7 linked regions of the Homo sapiens genome follow. Changing the gene in region 2 together with the main gene of any one other region gives a genetic interaction. Each region holds a gene or a part of one and is shown on either strand. Other genes may lie near its edges. The genes, in order: RBBP8, TIPIN, NAA50, DHODH, POLE2, FIP1L1 and TIMELESS.

Region 1 (3,500 bases), on a different chromosome or scaffold from region 2:
GTGGTTGCATGGGGAAGTGGGTTTGTGCATGGTTTATGTCAGACCAGGCTTGATAATTAAGTCTAATTAGCCAGGCAAGGAAGATGGTGGAAGGGGAGGGAATTTTCTGAGTAGAGAGAATAGCACATGCAAAAGTTTGCAGATAAGAGCTTGATTTTATTCAAGGAACTCTGGATAGTTAGGTTTAGTTCTAAGAGGAAATGGAATGGGAGATTGGAGTTTTGGGGGAGGTGGATAGGATATGATGCTAGAAATGTACATAGATCCAAATTATGTAAAATGGTATGTGCTATGCTGAAGAGATTGTCATCTTGCCTTGACTTTAGGACAGATTTCTCTATTTCTGCAAAAAATGTTGGGATTTTGGGATTTGGGATTTTGATAGGTAATGCATTGAATCTGTAGATTGCTTTATATAGTATTGACATCTTAACAATATTGTTTTGTAGTCCATGAACACGGGATACCTTTCTATTAGTGTCTTCTATATTTCTTTTTTTTTTTTTTTTTTGAGACAGAGTCTTGCTCTGTAGCCCAGGCTGGAGTGCAGTGGCGCGATCTCGGCTCACTGCAAGCTCCACCTCCTGGATTCATGCCATTCTCCTGCCTCAGCCTCCTGACTAGCTGGGACTACAAGCACCCGCCACCACGCCCGGCTAATTTTTTGTATTTTTAGTAGAGACGGGGTTTCACTGTGTTAGCCAGGATGGTGTCGATCTCCCGACCTCGTGATCCGCCCGCCTCAGCCTCCCAAAGTGCTGGGATTACAGGCGTGAGCCACTGCGCCCGGTCTATATTTCTTTTTAAGATTTTTTAATTTTTAATTACTAATTTTTAGAGATGAGGTCTTGCCTCATTGCCCAGGCTTGAGTGCAGTGGCACAATCATGGTTCGCCGTAGCCTCAAATTCCAGGGTGCAGGCAATCCTTCCGCTTCCACCTTCAGAGTAGCTAGGACTACAGGCATGCACCACCGAACCTGGCTAATTTATTTTTTTATAGAGACAGGGATCTCATTTTGTTGCCCAGGCTAGTCTCAACTCCTGGGCTCAAGCAGTCCTCTGACCTCATTGGCCTCCAAAAGTGCTAGGATTACAGGTGTGAGCCACCACACCTGGTCATTCTATAATTTCTTTCAGCAACATTTTCTGATTGTCATTGTACAAGTTTTTTGTCTCCTTGGTGAAATGTATTCTTAAGTATTTTATTCTTTTGATGCTACTGTAAATAGAATTGTTTTTTTAATTTGCTTTTCAGATTGTTCATTGTTAGTGTATAGAAATACAACTGGTTTTAGTGAGTTGATTTTATATTCTGCAACTTTCTTGAAACTCTTGATTTCTATTTTTGTTTTTTATGTTTTGAAACAGAGTCTCACTCTGTCACCCAGGCTGGAGTGCAGTGGCATGATCGCAGCTCACTGCAACCTCTGCCTCCCAGGTTGAAGCAGTTCTCCTGGCTCAGCCCCGCAAGTAGCTGGGACTACAGGCACGCACCACCACTCCTGGCTAATTTTTGTATTTTTAGTAGAGATGAGGTTTCACCATGTTGGCCAGGCTGGTCTTGAATTGCTGACCTCAAGCAAGCCGCCCATCTCGGCCTCCCAAAGTGCTAGGATTACAGGCAGGAGCCACTGTGCCTGGCTATTTATAAGCTATTAATTTAATAGAAATAAAATATTTGACAGATTTCTTCTTCCTATTCTTTGGTGTTACAGGATCTTCATGAAATCCCTATTTTACAGTGAGGAAGCATCAAGAAACAAATGGTATACTCTTTAATAGGAACAATATGCCATATTTATCAAATTATAGAATATATAAAGCTTGCAAATATTATGTAGTAGATAATTCCTTTAAAGTGTACTCCTCATGGTTATGTTCTAATCACATTCCCACAAAAGTTTCTATACTCTGAATAACTTTAAGGGAGGAATACAGTAATTGTTGGTGTATATGATAAGGTCCATGTGTTTTATGAATATTAGGTATTGGATATATGAGCTCATAAGAGAAGATAATCTTTGGTACGTTATATTGATCATGCCACTTTCCCAATTTCAAATAACTTATGGATTCTTAAAGGTATTAAATGAATAAGTACTATTTTTTAAGTAGATATGTCATTTTAAAACATTTTGGTTTGGGCCATGCCTTCGTCAATATGTTCCACATAGTTCCATATAAAATTAGAGTCTCTATATGATAACATCAAAGACATGCCTGAAGGGAACTTAATTTTTTTAAGGAGGTGGGGAATCCATTTGTAGAAACCAGTGTAAGAAGCTGTTTGAAAGACATCAAACATGGACTTGTCTGGACTTTGCAGGTTTTAAGGTATATATAGGAATCAAAATTGACTCATGACTTTTAAAGCTTCATGTCAGTAAAAAATAAAAGAGAAATGTTGGGAATGGTAATATTTGAGATATATAGTTTTTACTTAGCTACAGAAATGTACCCATAGGAACTTGCTTGAATCTGAATGCTCTGCTACACGTGTTTAGAATTATTTTTGCCTCTTTTGCCAAAACATAATAAAATGATAGCAAAATATGACAGTATGTGCACTGATCACAACAATATAATAAACTGCATCCATGTCTTTTAAAACTAGGCAAGAATAGACAAAATGCTCTAATTTCTGTTGGAGACTAGCAATATGCAAACCAGACCATTTTTGTTGAAAAATTCTGGAGACATTTATGACCGAGTTTTTATATCCTTTAAGATAATTTTATCCTTTCATGATTGTATCATTTCATGATATGTTCCTTTTGTGACAAATGCTGCTAGTATCAGTGTCACAGATTGTTACTGATGATATACAGTGTTTATGCTTTAAATTCCGAACTCACAGAATTTAATGGAAACTTCAGAATTCTTTAAATTTCAAAAGTTTTAAAGCATATTTATTTGGGTACAAAATTTTATTGCCTTTAAAAATCTTTTTCAGTATCAAGTTTATTATCAAAAGCACAAATAATAAAATAGAATTTAAAATATTTATTTTCAGAATACCACTATTTTAATAAATGATCTTTTGCCTATGCCAGCGTCTGCTATTAACATCTAGCTAATATATTTTCTGTGTCTAGTAAATATGGTAATCAGTTTCAAAGAAAACTAGGTAGGTTTTGTGAGGCAAAGTTGAAACACCTTGAAGAAATGGGAAAGTTTGGGGGCTCTAATAGGACAGGATAAATATTTCTTGATTCATTTTTTAATTGCTCCATTTATTTTCTATACATAGAATCAAAAATTCTAAAAAGAGAACATTATCTTAAGACTGCACAAATTAACAGTGAAAGGAATTGTCCCACTCATTATTAAGAATGCTGTCAGGCTGGGCACAGTGGCACACACTTGGGAGGCCAAGGCAGGAGGATTACTTGAGTCCGGGAGTCTGAGACCAGCCTGGACAACAAAGCGAGACCCTGTCTCTACAAAAAACATTTTTTTAATTAGCTAGGCATGGTGGTGTGTGCCTGTGGTCCCAGCT
Region 2 (3,500 bases):
GCATATACTACTGGGTTACTTTTTGAGGTGCCCGGTATGTGATAAAGGTTCAGGGCTAAAAAAATGACTACGATCAGGCCCCTTTGTGGGCAAATACAGTAGTGAATGAATCAGACATACAACATTGCCAGTAGTGTGGTAGGTGTTGTAATTAGAGGTATGAGTAGGTCGCAGGGTGGGATGCAAAGGAGAGCATAGTTACATGTCCCTGGGGGTAGAGGGAGAACTTCACAAAGGAGGATTCAGAAGAATTTTGATTTGGGGGTGAGAGGAAGAAAAAAGAAATTAAAAAGAAAAAAAGTATTTTGAATGAACAGTAGAGGTCAGGCAGAGGTGATTTTGAATGGGGGAGCCATCTATGCAGAGGTGTAAATTAACTTGGATTTCAGGCTCTATATTCTATGGCAGTAAAAAAAAAAAAAAAAAAAGATAAATTAAGGCCAGGCGCAGTGGCTCACGCTTGTAATCCTAGCACTTTGGGAGGCCAAGACGGGCGGATCACTTGAGGCCAGGAGTTCGAGACCAGCCTGGCCAACATGGTGAAACCCCATCTCTACTAAAAATACAAAAAATTAGCCTGGCGTAGTGGCACATGCCTGTAATCCTAGTTACTCGGGAGGCTAAGGCAGTAGAATTGCTTGAACCCGGAAGGCGGAGGTTGCAGTGATCCGAGATTGCGCCATTACACTCCAGCCTGGGCAAAAAGAGTGAAACTCTGTCTCAAAAAAAAAAAAAGGAGATAAATTAACATGGACCATTCAGAGAATTACAAGCATGCTGAAATATAGGGTACAAATAAGAGAACTGAATCTGAGATTTTTGTTTGTTGTGTCATATATTTAATTTGTATCTTAATAGTCTCCAAATTTTTTTGATCAGGTGCCACAGAAGTAAAAATGTTTTGACCATTTTATTTGTTGATTAAATACATTTACTTCTATACGGATGTGATTTGTAATGTACTTTTTTTTTTTTGAGACGGAGTCTCACTCTGTTGCCTAGGCTGGAGTGCAGTGGTGCGATCTCGGCTCACTGCAACCTCCACCTCAGTTCAAGTGATTCTCCTGCCTCAGCCTCCCAGTAGCTGGGATTACAGGTGTGCACCACCACACCTGGCTAATTTTTGTATTTTTAGTAGAGACAGGGTTTCATCACGTTGGCCAGGCTTGTCTCAAACTCCTGATTTCAGTTGATCCACCTGCCTTGGCCTCCCAAAGTGCTAGAGTTACAGGCGTGAGCCAGTGAGCCACTGTGCCCGGCCTAAATTTAGTTTTTGTAGTGACAGGATCTCACTATGTTGCCCAAGCTGGTCTGTATCTCCTGGCCTCAAACAGTCTGCCTTGGCCTCCCAACGTGCCGGGATTACAGGTGTGAGCCACTGTGCTTGGCCTCCAGCTGTTCCTTGGACATTTCAGGCACATTTTTATTCTAAGGCTTTTGTATTGCCGTACTCTGCCTGGAACACTCTTCCCTTGTACCCCTCAAGTCCGCATGACTGTCTTACACTCCTCAAACTGTGCTCAAATGACAACTTGGTGAAGCCTCCCCATTACACTGTTATAGTTGCATCCCCACTCCCATCATTTCTGACTCCCCTATGCTGTTTCCTTTTGCATTGCCCTTGTTTCCCTTTAATTTTTATATAGTTTACTTATGTTTTAGTTTGTCTTTACTACAATGACGGCATCCTGTAACACACTGAATATTTCTAGCTTTAGCTTCTTTGCCATAATCACTTGCCAATGAATGTTGCAGTAAATGAATTTCATGCGTACTTCTAATTTTTTAAAATTTCATTTTTATTTACTTATTTCTTTTCGAGGCAGGGCCTCACTCTGTTGCCCAGGGTGGAGCACAGTGGCATGATCATAGCTCTGCAGCCTCGACCTCCAGGGCTTAAGCAATCCTGCCACCTCAGTCTCCTGAGTAGTTTGGATTACAGGCATGCACCACCTGCCTGCCCAAGTTTTTCTTTTTTTTTTTTTTCTTTTTTTTTTTGTAGAGAAAGGGTCTCCCTATGTTTTGCAGGCTGGTCTCAAACTCCTGGGTCCATGTGATCCTCCCACCTTGGGTTCCCAAAGTGCTGGGATTATAGGCGTGAGCTGCTGCACCCAGCTTTAAATCTCATTTTAATCCTACTCAAAGGAACCAGCTGCTGCTTACAAAATATATTGTTTATATAAATAGGTCATTTACTACTGAAGATACCTTTGTTTTCTTGGTTCATAAAAAGTAGTTTTTTGCTTTTTTTTTTACTTTTTTTTGTAATAGAGACGAGGTCTTGCTATGTTGGTGATGTTGGTCTTGAACTCTTGTTCTCAAGCAATCCTTCTGCCTCAATCTCCCAAAGGGCCATGATTACAGGCGTGAGCCACCTTGTCCAGTCAAAATTAGTTCTTTGAGTTCATTTGAAGCCAGGAGTTAGGGACCAGAGTGGTCAACACCTATAGTCCCAGCTATTTAGAAGGCTGAGGCAGGAGGATCCTTTGAGTCCAAGGAGTTTGAGGCTGGAGTGAGCTATGATCATACCACTGTACTCTAGCCTGGGTGACAGAGTGAGTCCCCATCTCTTGAAAAAAACAAAAAAAAAGTAGTTATTTATGTATTTTCTTATTGATTTAGAATCCTGCAACCCTGTAAGATGAAGCACATTAAAAACCCCATGTTTCATAAGTGGTTCTTTTTTTGAGACGGAGTTTCACTCTTGTTGCCCAGGCTGGAGTGCAGTGGTGTGATCTCGGCTCACTGCAACCTCTGCCTCCCGGGTTCAAGTGATTCTCCTGCCTCAGCCTCCTGAGTAGGTGGGATTACAGTCATGTGCCACCATGCCCGACTAATTTTGTATTTTTAGTAGAGACGGGGTTTCACCATGTTGGTCCGACTGGTCTTGAACTCCTCACCTCAGGTGATCTGCCTGCCTCGGCCCCCAAAAGTGCTGGGATTACAGGTGTGGGCCACTGCGCCTGGCTCATAAGTGGCTCTAATGCTTGTTTCTTAACTGCTTCAGCAATGTTTCATACATATACTCTTATCAGTATTTCCTGACAATGGAGGCCATTTTAGTTTCTTCCTACATTTTTGTTTTCCATGTCAGGAAGGAAAAGTGGCTTTTCGTTTTTCACTATTAAGGAAGAAACCTTAAAAGGGAGTTTGATTGTAAAGGGCTGAATTAAGTATCATGATTTTTAAATCTCACTGAAATAATTGTAAAGGTCTGTCTTTATGTTTTAAATGTTTTTTTAATTGTGATAGTTTTTCTATAATTAGCTAATATTTCAAGGCATAATATATACATAGAACAAGGATAATGTATATAAATATTTCAAATGGTGACTTGAATTTTTTGACCAACTTGTCAGATGTGATGGGGTTTATCTTTCTTTTAATTTCATAATATGGATGATGTAGATAGAAGGTAAAGTGTCAGCTCTGCTGTTTTTTTTATTTTTTGCTTGTGCTTCTATTCTACCTACAGGCATTTTGTTATTTTGTAGAATCTT
Region 3 (3,146 bases), on a different chromosome or scaffold from region 2:
TTAATAGGGCCTTTTAATAATTTATCCTCTTACAGTGAAAAAATTTTGATAGCTGTGGTACTTTTCCCTTTGTTGACTACAAGAATAAACACTGAGCCTTCTAATCTCAGCCAGCTGTCTTACAAATGTAAAAATTAGATTAAAAGTGTAAAATTGTCATCAAAAGGTTTTAGGTAAGCATGCCTAACCCTTGTTGATTACTGGTAGTTGTAAAGAGAATGTAACAGATGTTTGGAGCTATCTGTGGAGAATGCTTAAAACTTGATGAAACCTTAATTTTAATTTTTTTTCTGATACTCTCTTATATCTCAGGCATGTCCAGATCAGCAATGAGTCGGCAATTGACTTCTACAGGAAGTTTGGCTTTGAGATTATTGAGACAAAGAAGAACTACTATAAGAGGATAGAGCCCGCAGATGCTCATGTGCTGCAGAAAAACCTCAAAGTTCCTTCTGGTCAGAATGCAGATGTGCAAAAGACAGACAACTGAACAAATTACAAATGAACTTTCTTGCACTTGCTTGTCGCCAAATAAAAGAGAGGCCCATTGATTCCTCCCCCACCCCAACACTTTTCTTTTAAAGCTTTTCTCCCTCCTTGTTCTTGTTTTTCTTTCTTCCTTTCCTTTTCTCTGAGAGTTTTAATACTTTCAAGGACTTTAAAAAAATAATCATGTTTGAATTGTTTTCTCTTATTTTTGTGAGGTGGTTTGAAGGAAGGACAAGGTAGATCTGTTTAGTTTTGCAGTTGAAGTTAGATGGTCCTAAACATTTAATTGTCAAATAATTTCAAATTTAATGTCCTGCTTTCACATTGAAGGGCAGAGCCTACAAAACATTGTATATTTCAAAAGACAAAAAGAAGCAGCAGCAGTATCTTGTTCTCTAATTCATAGACAAGTTGAGTGTGTTTGTGGTACTTTGGGTTTTTAAACACTTTGGGATACTAATCCCTAGACATTGCCTTCACTCCACCTTTAGTCCTTCTGAGCACTCTCTCGGGAGTTGGAACATTGTTATCCTTGTAAGAAATACTAAGCTTATGTTGATTTTTAAGTAATTATATCTTCTCTTCTTGCTGGTGGGTGGGGCAGTTTGGTTTAGTGTTATACTTTGGTCTAAGTATTTGAGTTAAACTGCTTTTTTGCTAATGAGTGGGCTGGTTGTTAGCAGGTTTGTTTTTCCTGCTGTTGATTGTTACTAGTGGCATTAACTTTTAGAATTTGGGCTGGTGAGATTAATTTTTTTTAATATCCCAGCTAGAGATATGGCCTTTAACTGACCTAAAGAGGTGTGTTGTGATTTAATTTTTTCCCGTTCCTTTTTCTTCAGTAAACCCAACAATAGTCTAACCTTAAAAATTGAGTTGATGTCCTTATAGGTCACTACCCCTAAATAAACCTGAAGCAGGTGTTTTCTCTTGGACATACTAAAAAATACCTAAAAGGAAGCTTAGATGGGCTGTGACACAAAAAATTCAATTACTGTCATCTAATGCCAGCTGTTAAAAGTGTGGCCACTGAGCATTTGATTTTATAGGAAAAAATAGTATTTTTGAGAATAACATAGCTGTGCTATTGCACATCTGTTGGAGGACATCCCAGATTTGCTTATACTCAGTGCCTGTGATATTGAGTTTAAGGATTTGAGGCAGGGGTAATTATTAAACATATTGCTTCTATTCTTGGAAAAATAGAAGTGTAAAATGTTAATAATACAAATGTCACTGTGACCTCCTCCACTGAGAGGACTGGTTTATGCCAGATCATTTTCCGGCACACACGGAGTGGCTTTGACAGATTGATAACTTTGTAAGATGGGAGACATCTGAAATATTCATGTTTTCCTTTTGTAGTCCCATCTCCACTATTTAGAAATGTTCTCAGACTTTAAAATAATGCACAGGGCTTGAGCTTTCTGTCATTTGACTTTAAAAGGAAGTTTCATTCATATTTATCCTCTTATGTAAAATTGCGGTATAAAGTCTCATTTCCAAATATGTTAAATGACAAAATTATTTTATAAAATGTTTATGCACACTTTATAACCTTAAGTTTTTATTTGAGAATGTGAAAGTACAAAGTGCAGTAGACTTCAACAATCTTGAGTGCCAAGAATAATACAGAAAAAGAAGACAGTTGATGAATGAGTTTATAGGGTTCTAATCTTAAGATGGTAAAAATGTAGAAAGACCTTGCTGGTTTTTTGGGGGTATTCGTTTCTTAAACAATCCAAATCTAAGCTTAGAAGAAAAGTTTAGCGTTAAGCACCTTTATCTTCATGAATAAGCTTCAGCTTGCTCTTGGCAAGAGAAGAGTGCTTGAGTTACAGAAGGCATAAGTAGTTTGAAGAATGCAGCAGCCTTTTTGTAAACTTCCCAGATATCAAAATAGACTTTGATATATAAATGGTTTTCTGAGATGACACTGCCTCTATTTCTATAACCATTTCACCTGGACTATCTAATCAGTCCTATGAATGTATCCCTAAATGTGGTTATTGAAAACCTAATAGCTGCCTCATGACAAGTACATGTTATTTAAGGAGGAAAAAATATTAAATTTTGAATTGAGTGTGTAGGCTCCCTATCATTATATATAGAGTTTCTTTTTCCACGGTAGTCAGTGACTTAACCTGAATTGTAAATGTTTGTAAAGGGTTAATTGTCCTACATCAAACTTAGTTAAATAATTCCATCCACTTATGGAGGAGGAGGAGAATGTGGAAGAGGTAAAAAGCTGGGCACAAGTTCATATGCCTATGAGTCAGTAAAGACTGAAGTAATGTCCTATGTTGAGCTGGTTATTTTGATATATGATAATAATTATCTTTGAAGTAGAACAATTCTGTTAACTGGAAAATCACAGGATATATCCATCATATTTTTCAGGACAGATAGTTTTTACTGTGGGGCAAATAGGTTAAAATTACACTATGTTAGTTGCATTTAGGTTTTAAAGCAAAGAATCTGTAGAGAAATCTATGCAATATATAGTTTGTCCAGATTAGCTTTCATTTGGGGAATGAAGTTCTGAAATATCTAAAGCAGTTTACTCATCAATTGAAAAGTCCTCCAAAAAGAGAACTATTGGGAAACCATGGTGTGGTGGTGGAAAAGAAAAGCTCCCTCAGTTTTTTGGAGGGAAT
Region 4 (3,500 bases), on a different chromosome or scaffold from region 2:
ATTTCTTTTCAGGAAAGCCAGCCCTCAGACGTGAGGAGTACAGTCGAGATGGATCCGATTCCATTCTTTTAGGCCAAGGGATCCCGTGGACATTGGCTAATAGCTCAAGGGTGTTTTAGACTTTTCTTTTCTTTTTTTTTTTTTTTTTTTGAGACAAGGTCGCACTCTGTCACCCACACTGGAGTGTAGTAGCATGATCACGGCTCACTGTAGCCTGCACCTCCCTGGGCTCAGGCGATCCTTCCACTTCAGCCTCCAGAGTATCAGGGACTACAGGTGTGCACCACCATGCCCAGCTAATTTCTGTATTTCTTGTAAGATGGGGTTTTGCCAAGTTGCCCAGGCTGGTCAGCTCCTGAGCTCAAGTGATCTGCCTGCCTCGGCCTCCAAGTAGCTGGGGCTATAGGCTTGAGCCACTGTGCCTGGCTAATTTTTAAATTTTTGTAGAGACAGGGTCTTGCTCTTTTGCCCAGGCTGGTCTCAAATTCCTGGGTTATAAGTGATCCACCTGCCTTGGCCTCCCATAGTGCTGGTATTACAGGCATGAGCCACGGTGTCCAACGTTTTTTAGACTTTTATTCCTAAAAGATAACCAGGAAATATTACCACATGTACTGGGTGATGAAGTCCTTCAGTTCACTCAGAGCTCTGGGCGCTAGGGTCAGAGTGACAAATGAGAGAGACGTGGTGTCTGCTCTTACAGACCCCGTGATTTATAGCAGCAGGGACAGATAATTTGTCACCGTCGCATATAATCAGTGTCATGAGAGGGGATCAGAGGGGACTCTGGGAAGGTATAGCCAGGGGTCCTACTGGTCTAGGTGCTAAGGACAGCTTCTGAGGGTGATGCTGAAGGTTCGCCCTGGAGAATGAAGGGGAGCAGGTGGGACAGGCTGGTGGGACAGGGCCTGGAGAGGGGTGCAGCTGCCCACCTTGGTCAGCAGGCGGCGCAGCTCGGCCTTTCCCTGAAGGCTCCGCAGCCCGGCAGTGTTGGGGCTGGACACATTCACCACCAGGTAGTCGGCCAGGGGGCCCAGTACGCGCACCCCTTCTGCGTAGTCCTCCGCGGCGTCCACTGAGGTCTTGTTCTTCCCCAAGTTGACCCCCAGAGGCAGTCCATCTGCAAACATCGCTGGTCAGGCCTGCACCCCGCACACCCTTTCCTGTGCCACCTTCTGAGGCTGCCCTTGACCAAACCACCTGTGGACAGCCGCGCAGGCCTTCCCTCCAAACCTGACCTGCCCGACACCGGCTGACAGGTGCTCAACTGCGGCCTGGGCCCGCCTGCTGACCAAAACCACTCACTGGCTTTGTCTAGCAAAGTCTGGGCAGCTACGAGGATGTTTTGCTGCATTTTGCCCTTTTTATTTTTAAAATTTTCATGGAAAATGGACAAATTACTGCAAATACTTGTGGGGCAAAAGATGGGCCTCATAAATTGAATAAAACTGAGAACAGAGAGAACTCAGTAGGCACATCAGGCCCGCAACTCTCACCTCAAGGAATGCTTGTTGGCCTTGGCTCGGTTGACTGGATGTACAGTTGCGAAGAAAAAACAAAATGAAAGAACATGTATAAAATACTGAAAAACAGGCCAGGTGCGGTGGCTCACGCCTATAATCCCAGCACTTTGGGTGGTCAAGGGCAGAGGATTGCTTGAGCCCAGGAATTCAAGACCAGTCTGGGCAACATGGTGAAACCCTATCTCTATAATTGAAAACTCAGCCGGGAGCAGTGGTGCACACCTGTAGTCCTAGCTGCTCGGGAGGCTGAAGTAGGATTGAGGCTCCAATGAACCGTGATCGCGCCACTGCACTCCAGCCTAAGGAGCAGAGCAAGACTCTGTCTCAAAAAAAAGAAAAAAAAAAAAAATATATATATATATACACATATATATATATATATATATATATACACATATACATATACACATATATATATACTGGAAAATGTTTTTTGTTTTTTTTTTTGAGATGGAGTCTCACTGTTGCCCAGGCTGGAATGTGGTGGCACAATCTTGGCTCACTGCAACCTCCGTCCCCTGAATTCAAGCAATTCTCCTGTCTCAGCCTCCTGAGTAGCTGGGATTACACGCATGTGCCACCACGCCCAGCTAATTTTTGTATTTTTAGTAGAGATGGGGTTTCACCATGTTGGCCAGGATGGTCTCCATCTCCAGACCTCATGATCTGCCCACCTCAGCCTCCCAAAGTGCTGGGATTACAGGCGTGAGCCACTGCAACCGGCCTAATTTTTGTATTTTTAGTAGAGAAGGGGTTTCACCATGTTGGCCAGGCTGGTCTCAAACCCCTGACCTCAAATGATCCGCTTGCCTTGGCCTTCCAGAGTGTTAGGATTACAGGCGTGAGCCACCATGCCCGGCCAAATGTTTTCAATTATCATGCCTAAAATGTAGAGGTGTAATTGTTTTCTAACTTATAATTTTAGTTCTCTGAGGAAAGGGACTCTCCCTCATATAATAACTGAGGGTACCCTGTATCTTAGGTGCTCCCTGGACAACCTGATTACTCCCCTAGCCTGGGCATCATTGTTAACACCTGCCCCTTTTTACTCTCAAGAGGGTCTCAGTTTACATGTAAGCAATTAGGTCAGCTTACTTAAAAATCCACAGGACTATCAATGGACTTGCATTTTGGACCTCCAGAAAAAATACATTTTCAGAAACACACTATGTGTAAAAGAAACGGGTTGTCTCTACTTGACTTCTTCTAAGTTTACTATCTTATCTGCACGGGGAGTGGTACATCAATGGTACAGGCTGTACTTTTGATCTGAGAGTTGGGGGAAGAATTAGAACACCAAGTAGCTCACAAAATGTGTTGTCAGGCCAGAGAGGATCAAACAACATCTATTGTACTGCTCACCACCTTCCCAACCCCAATCACACTCTCGCATCATCAGCAAATGAGATGAGTGTAGCTACTTTCCAGGGTGGGGACTGGAGGAGGGGATCAGAACCCAATTAGAAGCCGGGCGCAGCAGCTCACGCCTGTAATCCCAGCACTTTGGGAGGCTGAGGTGGGTGGATCAATTGAGGTCAGGAGTTCAAGACCAGCCTGGCCAACACGGTGAAACCCTGTCTCTACTAAAAATATAAAAATTAGTCAGGCATGGTGGTGGGCGCCTATAATCTCAGCTACTTGGGAGGCTGAGAAAGGAGAATCGCTTGAACCTGGGAGGTGGAGGCTACTGTGAGCTGAGATTGCACCACTGTTGCCTGGGCAATAGCGGGAGACTCTGTCTCAAAAGAAACAAAGAATCCAATTAGACAAAAGGTTTATCATAAGGTCTCCAAGCTTCCCAGTCTAGCACCCATCAAGCCAAGATCATCTGTAAGCTTGAATTCTTTTCCTCACAAGTAAACTGACTTGAAGGAGAATATCACTTTCATGTAGCTAACGGATTAGGAGTCATCTGCCCAAACTGACAAGATTTGGGAGTTAGACAGAAATTGCTGGATTACTCTGTCCCCAGAGGGC
Region 5 (3,500 bases), on a different chromosome or scaffold from region 2:
CTGGTCTCGAACTCCTGACCTCAGGTGATCTGCCCACCTCGGCCTCCCAAAGTGCTGGGATTACGGGCATGAGCCACTGCGCCCAGCCTGCTTTTCTGCTTTCTTACCCCCAAGAGCAACACCTGGACAAGGGGCTTTACTGAGTGGGGGTGGAATAGGGGTTGGGAAAAGGAAAACTGATGCGATATGGTACATGGCTCTGTGCAGGACTGTTGAGCTCATATTACGTTCTGCCTCCAAATCTGGGAGCAAGAGAATGTATAAACAGAAGAATAAAGTGAATGCAGATTGGTGTGGGGGAAAATAAGTAAATAAATAAATAACAGGTAACTTTAGGGTAAACAACGAGTAACGTCTATTTTAGGATAATAATCAAACTTCAGTACAATCATTTTGAATTTCTATTGATGGCTTTAGGAACATTCATTATACTCCAGTATTTATTTTATGTATTTTTTTTGAGACAGAGTCTCACTCTGTCGCCCAGACTAGAGTGCAGTGGTATGATCTCAGCTCACTGTAACCACCACCTCGCAGGCTCAAGCAATTCTCCTGTCTCAGCCTCCCAAGTAGCTGGGATTACAGGTGCGCCCCACTACCGCCCAGCTAATTTTTGTATTTTTAGTAGAGATGGGTTTCACCATGTTGGCCAGGCTGGTCTTGAACTCCTGACCTCAAGTGATCCAGCCACCTTGGCCTCCCAAAGTGCTGGGATTACAGGCATAAGCCACTGCATCTGGTCACACTATAGTATTTTAAATGAGTTTGCAAGGGTAAAATTAAAAATCCTCAATTTCTCTATTTTTTTTTTAGCAGTTATAAGTTCTGACAGGGAGAAGATTATAACTTCTGACTAAAATAAAGATAATGACTCCTTTCAATCATCTCCATTGCCCCAAATAGGAAAGAAGTGGCAATGTTAAAACTGTCTCTCAGCCCATTTTCCCCAGTGTTTTCCTTCCAGTTAAATGCCATCAATTTGTATAGAAGTATCATATCAAGAGGAAAGAGGGATATTCAGAGAAATAAAACCCAGAAGAATTACTGCCATATAAATTCTTAAACCTAAAAACATGACATAGTGGAGTCACAAAACTGAGGTCCTACCCTCATTTGCCATTCACCATGTGACCAAGTAAAGTTGCTGAACTTCTCTGGACATGGTACTTTCCTAAGAGCAAAGTAAATTATACTTCTGAATATTCATTTCAATTCAACTCATTTGTAGCATACAGAATAAAAAGTCAGATCAACCGGTTGGGTAGGCAGCAAAAGTTAGTAATGAATGGTACAAGCAACACTGTAACCTCAAATCCCAGGAAAAACCAGTAAAGATGAGTCATTTAATAATGAGGTTTGCAAAGAAAGCCATTATTTAAAAAGACACACAGAAATAACAACAGTAATCACTGTAGAAACGTTGATCACTAATAATTTTCCAAGACAATAATTAAAAATAAGTGCTCAATAACACCTCCAAGGAGGAAAAAAGTTAACTGTACCCACATACATAGTTTCATCAACAGACTGACTGCATTCCTGGACTGCTGCTTCCACCACAGATCGTTCAATCATGTTTGATGACACTGAAAAGAGAATTTCAAAGTCAAAATTTAAAAACAAAAAAAAAAATAGTTCTTTCCACAGACAGCTCTTTTCCCAAAAATAATTTGCAAATATTAATACTGAGATTCTCATTATACAGTTTTTGGAGAAAAAAAGTGTTAGGTCAGAACAATAACAAAAGCCTTATCTCAAATACCTTCATTTTCCACACTCAAAGTTACAATACCTTAATATACAGTCAAATGCCTTAATTTTCTAAACCCTGTTTAGTTATAAGAACATTTCTGAGCTAGGGTCGGTGGCTCACACCTATAATCCTAACACTTTGGGAGGCCAAGGCAGGAGGATGGCTCGAGCCCAGGAGTTTGAGACCAGCCCAGACAACGTGGTGAAACCCCTTCTCTACAAAAAATATAAAACTTAGCTGGGGGTGGTGGCACATGCCTGTAGTCCCAGATACTCAGGAGGCCAAGATGGGAGGATCACCTGAGCCCAGGGAGGTGGAGGCTGCAGTGAGCTGTGATCATGCCACTGGCACTCCAGCCTGGGCCACACAGAGTGAGATACTATCTCAAAAAAAAAAAAAATTCTCTAAGCTCCCAGTTTTAATAAGGTTACATTAGTATAACTTTATCATCATAACTGCTCAGTTTCAATGAGCATGATAGTAACAATAGCAGCTACCACTTATTAAGCATTGAGTAAATGTGTGGCACCATCCTCAGTACTTTATTTACAAGTATTATTCCACTGGGTAGATGTCCTGTAAGACTGATGTTAAGATGCCCATATCTTATAGATAGGGAAAATACAACTTTAAGAGGTTGAAAATTTTGCCCAAAAACTAGAAGAGATAGAGAGCAACAAAAACCCAGGACTGATTCCAGTGGGGGCTCTTTTAATCACTTTGATATGTTGTCAAGCAAAATACCATGTGCCATCTTAAATCAATGTACACAGGGACAAGTATCATTTTCTTTTTTTTTTTTTTGAGACGGAGTCTCGCTCTGTCAGCTAATTTTTTGTATTTTTAGTAGAGACGGGGTTTCACTGTGTTAGCCAGGATGGTCTCGATCTCCTGACCTCGTGATCCGCCCGCCTCAGCCTCCCAAAATGCTGCGATTACAGGCGTGAGACAAGTATCAGTTTCTAAATGTTCAACTGTAAAGGAATTTTTTAAGCAAAGGTATATGTAAAATTCTGCCTTTAGGAATGAAAATGAGATATAATAACCATTTATCCTGTATCACGGAGTATGTTTCTTCCTATATAATTGAAGTGACTAGCATCTATATAACATTAAGAGTGAACTCGGCACTTCTCAGCCTTTTATGCTAAGATAAAGTGGACAGTGAGCCATACCCACTTCTATCCTCAGGGTGCTATAAATATCAGACTTTTTTTCCAAGGGGAAGAGCATTTCTTCTTTCCAGTCCCATGCTTGTGGTATTAAGTATTTAACAAAAAGGTCCCTGAATCCCTATGGCAGTGTGGCAGTGGCAAGAGGAAACATGCTGATACAGTTTTACTGACAGGTTGAATAGAGAGGTGTCTCAGAAAACTCCCCGAAGTATATGGCTGAAATGGACTGCAAATCATAAAAAACTGGAACAGAGGTTTAGTTCATGTATTGGTGGCCCCATTCTAGCTTCTTTGGGCATGTTTCAACAGATGTGACTTTCCAAAAAAGAACATGAAGAAAGAGAGGAGGGGCCAGGTGTGGTGGCTCACGCCCGTAATCCCAGCACTTTGGGAGGCCAAGGTGGGTGGATTACCTGAGGTCAGGAGTTCAACACCAGCCTGACCAATATGGTGAAACCCTGTCTCTACCAAAAATATAAAAATTAGCCTGGTGTGGTGGCACGCACCTGTAGTCCCAGCTACTCAGGAGGCTGGGACAGAAGAATCGCTTGAACCCGGGAGGCAGAGGCTGC
Region 6 (3,500 bases), on a different chromosome or scaffold from region 2:
CTCTATGCCTGGCCTAGCACTCAATTCTTTTATAAAAACACTTTAAATTCAGCATCAAAAACTGCTGCTTCTATGTACCTTCGCCTAATCAATTAACTGTATTTTAGCAAAGAAGTATATTCATGATGAAACTTTAACAAGTTCTTTTATGTTAAAATAGAAAAATGTAAAAACAATGGACTCAACCACTGAGAGTTTGATATAGGCACACTCTCCTTACTATATAGCATTTACACAATTGTTACTTACTAAAAAATAACTTACCCATACTGTGGTGCTCCCGTTTTAATGTCTCCTATAGTGACATGAACATCATCTTCATCATCATCGCTGTCACTATCACTATCATCTTCGGTCTCAGTCACTTTCTACATGAACATAAACAAATTATAAAATACATTCAGTAATCCATTTCAACATCTAATACTAATAACTAAAAAAAGTAACCACCCTGTTTTTTTTTTTCTTTCTTCTGTCTTGAGACAGACTCTCACTTTGTCGCCCCGGCTTGAGTGCAGTGGCATGATCTCAGCTCACTGCAACCTCCACCTCCCAGGTTCAAGCAATTCTCCGGCCTCAGCCTCTAGAGTAGCTAGGATTACAGGTGCCCGCCACCATGCCCAACTAATTTTTGTATTTTTAGCAGAGACAGGGTTTCACCATGTTGGCCAGGCTGGCCTCGAACTCCTGACCTCAGGTGATCCACCCACCTTGGCCTCCCAAAGTGCTGGAATTACAGGCGTGAGCCACCATGCCCGGCCCCACTCTGTATTTTTTTGAGATACAATTTAAAAGTTACAAGCTTATAATGCTGCCACCTATTTCAACTCATAATTTTGATGTTCTACAGGATAAAAAGGATAAGACTATGAATAAAGAAATGAAATCTTTTTGGCATCATCTCCTTGTGGTAAACAACACCTCATTTTTTTTTTAACTATCATATCTGCCCCTCTTGCAAAAAGATCTAAAGCAACTTACTAAGATACCTACAAGATAAAATTATAAAAAATAAGTATTTGAGAAGTCTTGGCAAAAAAGAATCTAAGAGGAAAACAATTTTAAGATTCACAGTGTCACAAATACAATGTACCAAATCAATTAAAGAATTAAAAAAAAAAACCCCAAAGCATAAGAAGTACCAAATAGTTAAGTAGAAGCTCAGTTATTCTTGGTATTCTTGTATACCTAGAAGAGGCCCTACATGCAAATTCTATATTTGTGAAGATTTTACTTTGGCTCTTAAAGGCTATTTTGTGCTTAATCACATCATAGTAAATAAGTAGATCACATAGGCAAAATACTTTTTTGTATACAACTTCAAACTTCCGGAACAATAACTTCCTTCCTTTTATAGGATTAAAATGCACAAATATTCATAGGACCAATGATATGTTCACCTCACAAAGTATCAATGGCATGCAGGCATGCAGTCAGGGACTGTCACATACATTAAAAAGCAACGTTAAAAAATCGTAACAGTGAAAGGTTGTGGGCTCAAAACTTGCTCTGAAAACCAGGCTCACTATATTCAGTAGATTTATAACCATTCAATTCCTTGAAAGCAATAAACATCAAGCCTTTGCACATACTATTTTCCTCTGCAGTCTTTCTACTATTTCTTTTCCTCATTTTAATTCCTATATATGTTTTTGATGGCACCAGATGAAGTAGGAGATGTAAGAAAGGGCCAGATAACACCTGATACTGAAGGTAATGTAAAATGCCAGCTTGCTTTCTATGTAAACTGTGAAGCTATTGATAAAGATTTGTATCAGTAACTGGATTTCAAAGCCTTATGTTACCGGTTTTGGTACACCATTTTCAGCAGTTTCATCTTCAATTCCAGATGGAGGATTAGCACTACAAACAACAAAAGTAAGTATACATGTCAGGCATTACTTTTCGGAAGTACAGATAGATTATATTAGTATTTCTAAGCTTTAATAAAGCTCCTAAAATTATTGTCTCCACTGGAGACAGTAATGGTAAAATCTGACTGTCTTATTCCGTTATTTCTAGTAACTTGCAGAAGACAAGTACTCAACATTGTAAGTAGAATGCAAATGCCAGGCTGGGCGTGGAGGCTCATGCCTGTAATCCCAGCACTTTGAGAGGCTGAGGTGGGTGGATCACGAGGTCAGGAATTCAAGACCAGCCTGGCCAAGATGGTAAAACCCCGTCTCTACTAAAAATACAAAAAAAAAAAAATTAGCCAGGCATGGTGGCGGGCACCTGTAATCCCAGCTACTCGGAAGGCTGAAGCAGACAATTGCTTGAACCCAGGAGATAGAGGTTGCAGTGAGGCTGCAGTGATCATGCCACTGCACTCTAGCCTGGGCGACAGCGTGAGATGCTGTCTCAAAAAAAAAAAAAAAAAAAAAAAAGAATGCAAATGCCTTCACAGTTTATTAATGATTTATAATTTGATGGTGGGCTATAATTCAAGCTTTTTACACATTTTAAAAATATATGACAAACTTAATCAATTTTAATTATCCTAAATCAATTTGATCTTTACAGTGGCATTTTATAGCACAATCACCAAATAAAGCAAAATGAAAGATAAAAAGTCAAAACATAACTGTTATATTTTCATTGTTCTACTGCTTGCTTCAAGAAAACAAATATGCAGCTATAATTGTTCAGTACATTTACCTCCTGCTGAAATAAGCTTCTAGGTAGCCAGAAGCAAGTCCCATTTGCTTTCTACGTCACAAAACAGTATCCCTTCTTTAGTCAAAACTTGGATAGATATAACACAATTGGAGACTGCAATGCAATGTTTAAGAAAAACAGAGGCTTCAGCAATGAGCCAGTCAGTAGGAAACGGGCAAATTCTAATAGCAGGAACTTTGGTAGAGCAATGCAATGATGTACCAAGCCAGATAGCAGTAGGTCTGGCAGAGTACCTTTCTTCAATAGGCCTACTCTTTTGGAAGTTTTAATTTTCTATCACCATTAAAATGTTAGAAACATGATAAAATTTTAAGCTTTTTCTAGAAAAATAACACTGTAAAGGAAATTGTTTTTTCCCCCATAGGATGAAATCAACTCAACGGCTCCCCAAATGAAGTTGCAGAAAGGAATATAAAGCTATGTTGACAGTGACACTCAGGGAAGGTAGAAGGTTCCCTCCAATAAATTTTAGCAAGTTGTGTATTGCGGAATTAAAATTAAAGAATGTTTGATTAGAAAGTAAGCTTTTAAAATTGTAACCAATAAAAATAAAAATTAATGGGATAAAGATTATCATATAGAAAAGTATATTTGATTGTAAAACTATACCTGTAATTAATTTCTTGACCAACTGAAGGAATGGGTACAAAGAAATATTCAATCACTTTCATAACATAAACTAAAACTAATCTCAACTTTGTGGTTGAGATCAGAATTAGGAACTGAGTTGAATATATAAATTTTAAAATGAAATAACATTTCAGATAATATACCAATGAGTGAAAAGACTATAGGGGATTTTTTGGGTAAGGAAGCTGAAC
Region 7 (3,500 bases), on a different chromosome or scaffold from region 2:
ATTGGGGAAGTGATAAATGTCCATGAAATCTTCATAATTTATGTTCACAGATTGCAGTAAAGACAGGCGTAATAAATTATGAAAGTATTAATTTGGGGAACTAATAAATGTCCATGAAATCTTCACAATTTATGTTCTTCTGCTGTGGCTTCAGCCGGTCTCTCCATTCGGGGTCCCTGACTTCCCGCAACATCATCTATCTTATATCACTATAGAGGGTCGTTTGGTTTTCTCCAGCACATCTGGGCCTAGATTTGAATTGAAGTCTAGGAAGCAGATGGTTGCATTGATCTGAGGTTATGTATGGTCTTTTGCAGGGTGAGTGCACTGAAAGGAAAAGAGATAGAGGCCACACGGGAAAATGGCCAAACTGATGTATATAGTGATACAGTAGTAGGATATGTGTGACCCTGGTTTGATCATTTTGTTTTCTAGCTCAGAAATCTTCAGTGGCTCCCTGGCTTAGGTTCTAAATCTTTGAACTGATGGACAAAGATGAGGTTTTTCCCATAAAGCTGGTTCCAGCTGCTTTTCCATTGCTTTCCTGTTGGACTCATCTATTCATAATGGCTCCCTCTTTGGTTTTGCACTGGCAGTTCTCTGCTTAAATGCCCATCCTATTCCCAGCTGCCTTAATCCTATGCAGCTTTCAAAGGCCCAGTTCTAATCATGCTTCCTCAGACAAAACCTCCTTGACCACTTTAACCTGAAAAGAGTACTAGTTTTTTAGTTTTTTTCAGTATCACGTATTTAGAGCTTGTACTGCCTTATCTTTTACATTGTTTGTTCTATATTTGTGGATTTTATTTCTGCAACTACATTTCTTTTTTTTTTTTTTTTTTTGAGACGGAGTCTCACTCTGTCGCCCAGGCTGGAGTGCAGTGGCACGATCTCAACTCACTGTAACCTCCACCTCCCTGGTTCAAGTGATTCTCCTGCCTCAGCCTCCCGAGGAGCTGGGATTACAGGCACCCGCCACCACACCTGACTAATTTTTTGTTAGTTTTAGTAGAGACGGGGTTTCATCATGTTGGCCAGACTAGTCATGAACTCCTGACTTTGTGATCCACCCGCCTTGGCTTCCCAAAGTGCTGGGATTACAGGCGTGAGCCACCGCGCCTGGCCTCTGCATCTACATTTCTTAAATTTCTTTAGCGCTACCATTGCACCTGCACGCTATCTTTTGCCAGGAAGGTTCTCCCTAAGCATTTAGTAACTGACTATAGAGTCTGACAGATGGAGAGGAAATTAATATTTGGGGCGGGGGAGGGGTTCTGTTTGTTTTGTTTATTTGTCTTTTGAGACAGGGTCTCACTCTGTTACCCAGGCTGGAGTGCAGTGGCACAATTTCAGCTCGTTGCAACTTCAACCTCCTGGGCTCAAGTGATCCTCCTGCCTTAGCCTCCTGGGTAGCTGGGACTAAAGGTGTACATCAGCATGCCCGGCTGATTTTTGTGTTTTATTTTTTGTGGAGACTGGGCTTCGCTATGTTGCCCAGGCTGGTCTCAAACTCCTGGACTCAAGTGATCCTCCCACCTCAACCTCCCAAAGTATTAGTATTACAGGCGTGAGCCACCATGTCCAGCCAGGGATTCTTACTTTGTGCTCAGCACTGGGTAGAGTGCTTAATATCACTGCTTCTCAAACTGTCTTGGTAAAGGACCAGGTAGATTTTTCCCTCAAGCTGTTGCAGATCAGTAGTGTTCTAAAAGCACTTCTGTAAAATAAAATTACTAGAAAAATAACATTTAAAAAGACATAGAGAATACAGGCTTTTTATTATTATCATCATTAGATTCAACAAACATTGGCTGGGTGCAGTGGCTCATGCCCGTAATCCCAGCACTTTGGGAGGCCGAGGTGGGTGGATCACTTGAGGCCAGGAGTTCAGCAGCCTAGGCAACATGGCGAAACCCCATCTCAACTACAAAACACAAAAAAATTAGCCTGGCATGGTGGCACAGGCCTGTAATCCCAGCTACTTGGGAGGCTGAGGCACGATAATAGTTTGAACCCGGGAGGCAGAGGTTACAGTGAGCCAAGATCACGCCACTGCATTCCAGCCTGGGTGACAGAGGGAGACCCTGTCTCAAAACAAAACTGTAAACTGCCTGTCAAATTGCCCTAAGATGTTCTAAGTGCTAATGCTTTCTTTCTGTACTTACCTTGATGCAGACTGCTAATAGTTTGTGGATTGGCAGTGGTCTGAAGACCAAGGTTTGAGTAGCATTGCTTTACATGATCTCATTTACACTTCCCTAATATCTTGTGAGGGTGGGTATTATTATTATTTCCTCAGTATACTGATAAGGAAAGAGATTTAGTTAAGCCACCTGCTCAAGTTCACCAGTTTAGTACCAGACAGAATTGGAATTCAAGTGCTAGATGCCATTTTGTTCATACTACTGGGTCTCAAAGAGGATCCTTGGAGCAGAGTTGGTTTGGGGCAGGTAGAGTGTTTTGTTTCGTCTTCAAAAAGTAAGTTTATTTGGTCGGGCGCAGTGGCTCATGCCTGGTATCCCAGCACTTTGGGAGGCCCAGGTGGGCAGATCATGAGGTCAGGAGTTTGAGACCAGCCTGGCCAATATGGTGAAACCCCATCTCTACTAAAAATACAAAAATTAGCTGGGCATGGTGGCGCGTGCCTGTAGTCCCAGCTACTTGGGAAGCTGAGGCAGAAGAGTTGCTTGAATCCAGGAGGTGGCGGTTGCAGTGAGCTGAGATCGTGCCACTGCACTCCAGCCTGGGCGACAGAGCAAGACTCTGTCTCAAAAAAAAAAAAAAAAAAAAAAAGGTTAATTTGAATTGCAAATACATTTAATATTTTATCTGTTGTTTTCTTTTGGTTCTTGCATTTTAATGCCTCCAAGTATTGATTTCAGATGCATATTGCTTCATCTGAACTGCTTGATACTTAGTTGAGTAGGAAAAGTAACTAACATCCCTTTTAAATGTCCAGTTCCATTGGCTCTGTGGTGTTTGACAAAGTTCTCACCTGGTCTATGATGAAATGTGAAAATAAAGTCAATGTAATGAATTTTTTCATGAAGTCATATTTATTAAATTTGAAGGACAGTATTTTATCCTGAGATTTTTGTCTGTAGTTTTTTTGGTGTTAAAATGGTAGAAACAGAATGCGTATAGTAATTGTGTGGAGTGTTGTTTATAACGGCTGTTTGAGATATAATTCATATACTGTAAAATTCACCCTTTTAAAGTGTACAATTCAGGCTAGGTGTGGTGGTTCACACCTGTAATCTCAGCACTTTGGGAGGCCAAGGCAGGAGGATTGCTTGAGGCCAGTCAGGAGTTTGAGACCAGTGTGGGCAACATAGGGAGGTACCAGCTCTACACAAATTTAAAAATTAGCCAGATGTGGTATTGAATGCCTGTGGTCCCAGCTGCTTGGGAGGCTGAGGTGGGAGGATTGCTTGGGCCAAGGAGTTGAGGCTATAGCGAGTCATGATTGATCTGTACTCCAACCTGGGCTGGTCAACAGA

Evidence for each region.
Region 1: changes in TIPIN (region 2) and RBBP8 together harm fitness more than expected from each alone (negative genetic interaction), as found in Homo sapiens cells (one large-scale study listed by BioGRID).
Region 3: changes in TIPIN (region 2) and NAA50 together harm fitness more than expected from each alone (negative genetic interaction), as found in Homo sapiens cells (one large-scale study listed by BioGRID).
Region 4: changes in TIPIN (region 2) and DHODH together harm fitness more than expected from each alone (negative genetic interaction), as found in Homo sapiens cells (one large-scale study listed by BioGRID).
Region 5: changes in TIPIN (region 2) and POLE2 together harm fitness more than expected from each alone (negative genetic interaction), as found in Homo sapiens cells (one large-scale study listed by BioGRID).
Region 6: changes in TIPIN (region 2) and FIP1L1 together harm fitness more than expected from each alone (negative genetic interaction), as found in Homo sapiens cells (one large-scale study listed by BioGRID).
Region 7: changes in TIPIN (region 2) and TIMELESS together harm fitness more than expected from each alone (negative genetic interaction), as found in Homo sapiens cells (one large-scale study listed by BioGRID).

Annotation. Positions count from the first base shown.
Region 1 is NC_000018.10:22,939,828-22,943,327, forward strand, and holds part of RBBP8 (DNA endonuclease RBBP8), read left to right. Parts: intron 1-3,500. UniProt on the Homo sapiens protein: Endonuclease that cooperates with the MRE11-RAD50-NBN (MRN) complex in DNA-end resection, the first step of double-strand break (DSB) repair through the homologous recombination (HR) pathway.
Region 2 is NC_000015.10:66,343,186-66,346,685, reverse strand, and holds part of TIPIN (TIMELESS-interacting protein), read left to right. Parts: intron 1-3,500.
Region 3 is NC_000003.12:113,719,104-113,722,249, reverse strand, and holds part of NAA50 (N-alpha-acetyltransferase 50), read left to right. Parts: intron 1-312; coding exon 313-490; 3' UTR 491-3,146. UniProt on the Homo sapiens protein: N-alpha-acetyltransferase that acetylates the N-terminus of proteins that retain their initiating methionine. Has a broad substrate specificity: able to acetylate the initiator methionine of most peptides, except for those with a proline in second position.
Region 4 is NC_000016.10:72,018,744-72,022,243, reverse strand, and holds part of DHODH (dihydroorotate dehydrogenase (quinone), mitochondrial), read right to left. Parts: intron 1,121-3,500; coding exon 933-1,120; intron 1-932. UniProt on the Homo sapiens protein: Catalyzes the conversion of dihydroorotate to orotate with quinone as electron acceptor. Required for UMP biosynthesis via de novo pathway.
Region 5 is NC_000014.9:49,678,215-49,681,714, forward strand, and holds part of POLE2 (DNA polymerase epsilon subunit 2), read right to left. Parts: intron 1,587-3,500; coding exon 1,511-1,586; coding exon of another isoform or gene 1,507-1,510; intron 296-1,506; exon of another isoform or gene 94-295; intron 1-93. UniProt on the Homo sapiens protein: Accessory component of the DNA polymerase epsilon complex. Participates in DNA repair and in chromosomal DNA replication.
Region 6 is NC_000004.12:53,380,641-53,384,140, reverse strand, and holds part of FIP1L1 (pre-mRNA 3'-end-processing factor FIP1), read right to left. Parts: intron 1,864-3,500; coding exon 1,806-1,863; intron 369-1,805; coding exon 265-368; intron 1-264.
Region 7 is NC_000012.12:56,439,427-56,442,926, reverse strand, and holds part of TIMELESS (protein timeless homolog), read left to right. Parts: intron 1-3,500. UniProt on the Homo sapiens protein: Plays an important role in the control of DNA replication, maintenance of replication fork stability, maintenance of genome stability throughout normal DNA replication, DNA repair and in the regulation of the circadian clock.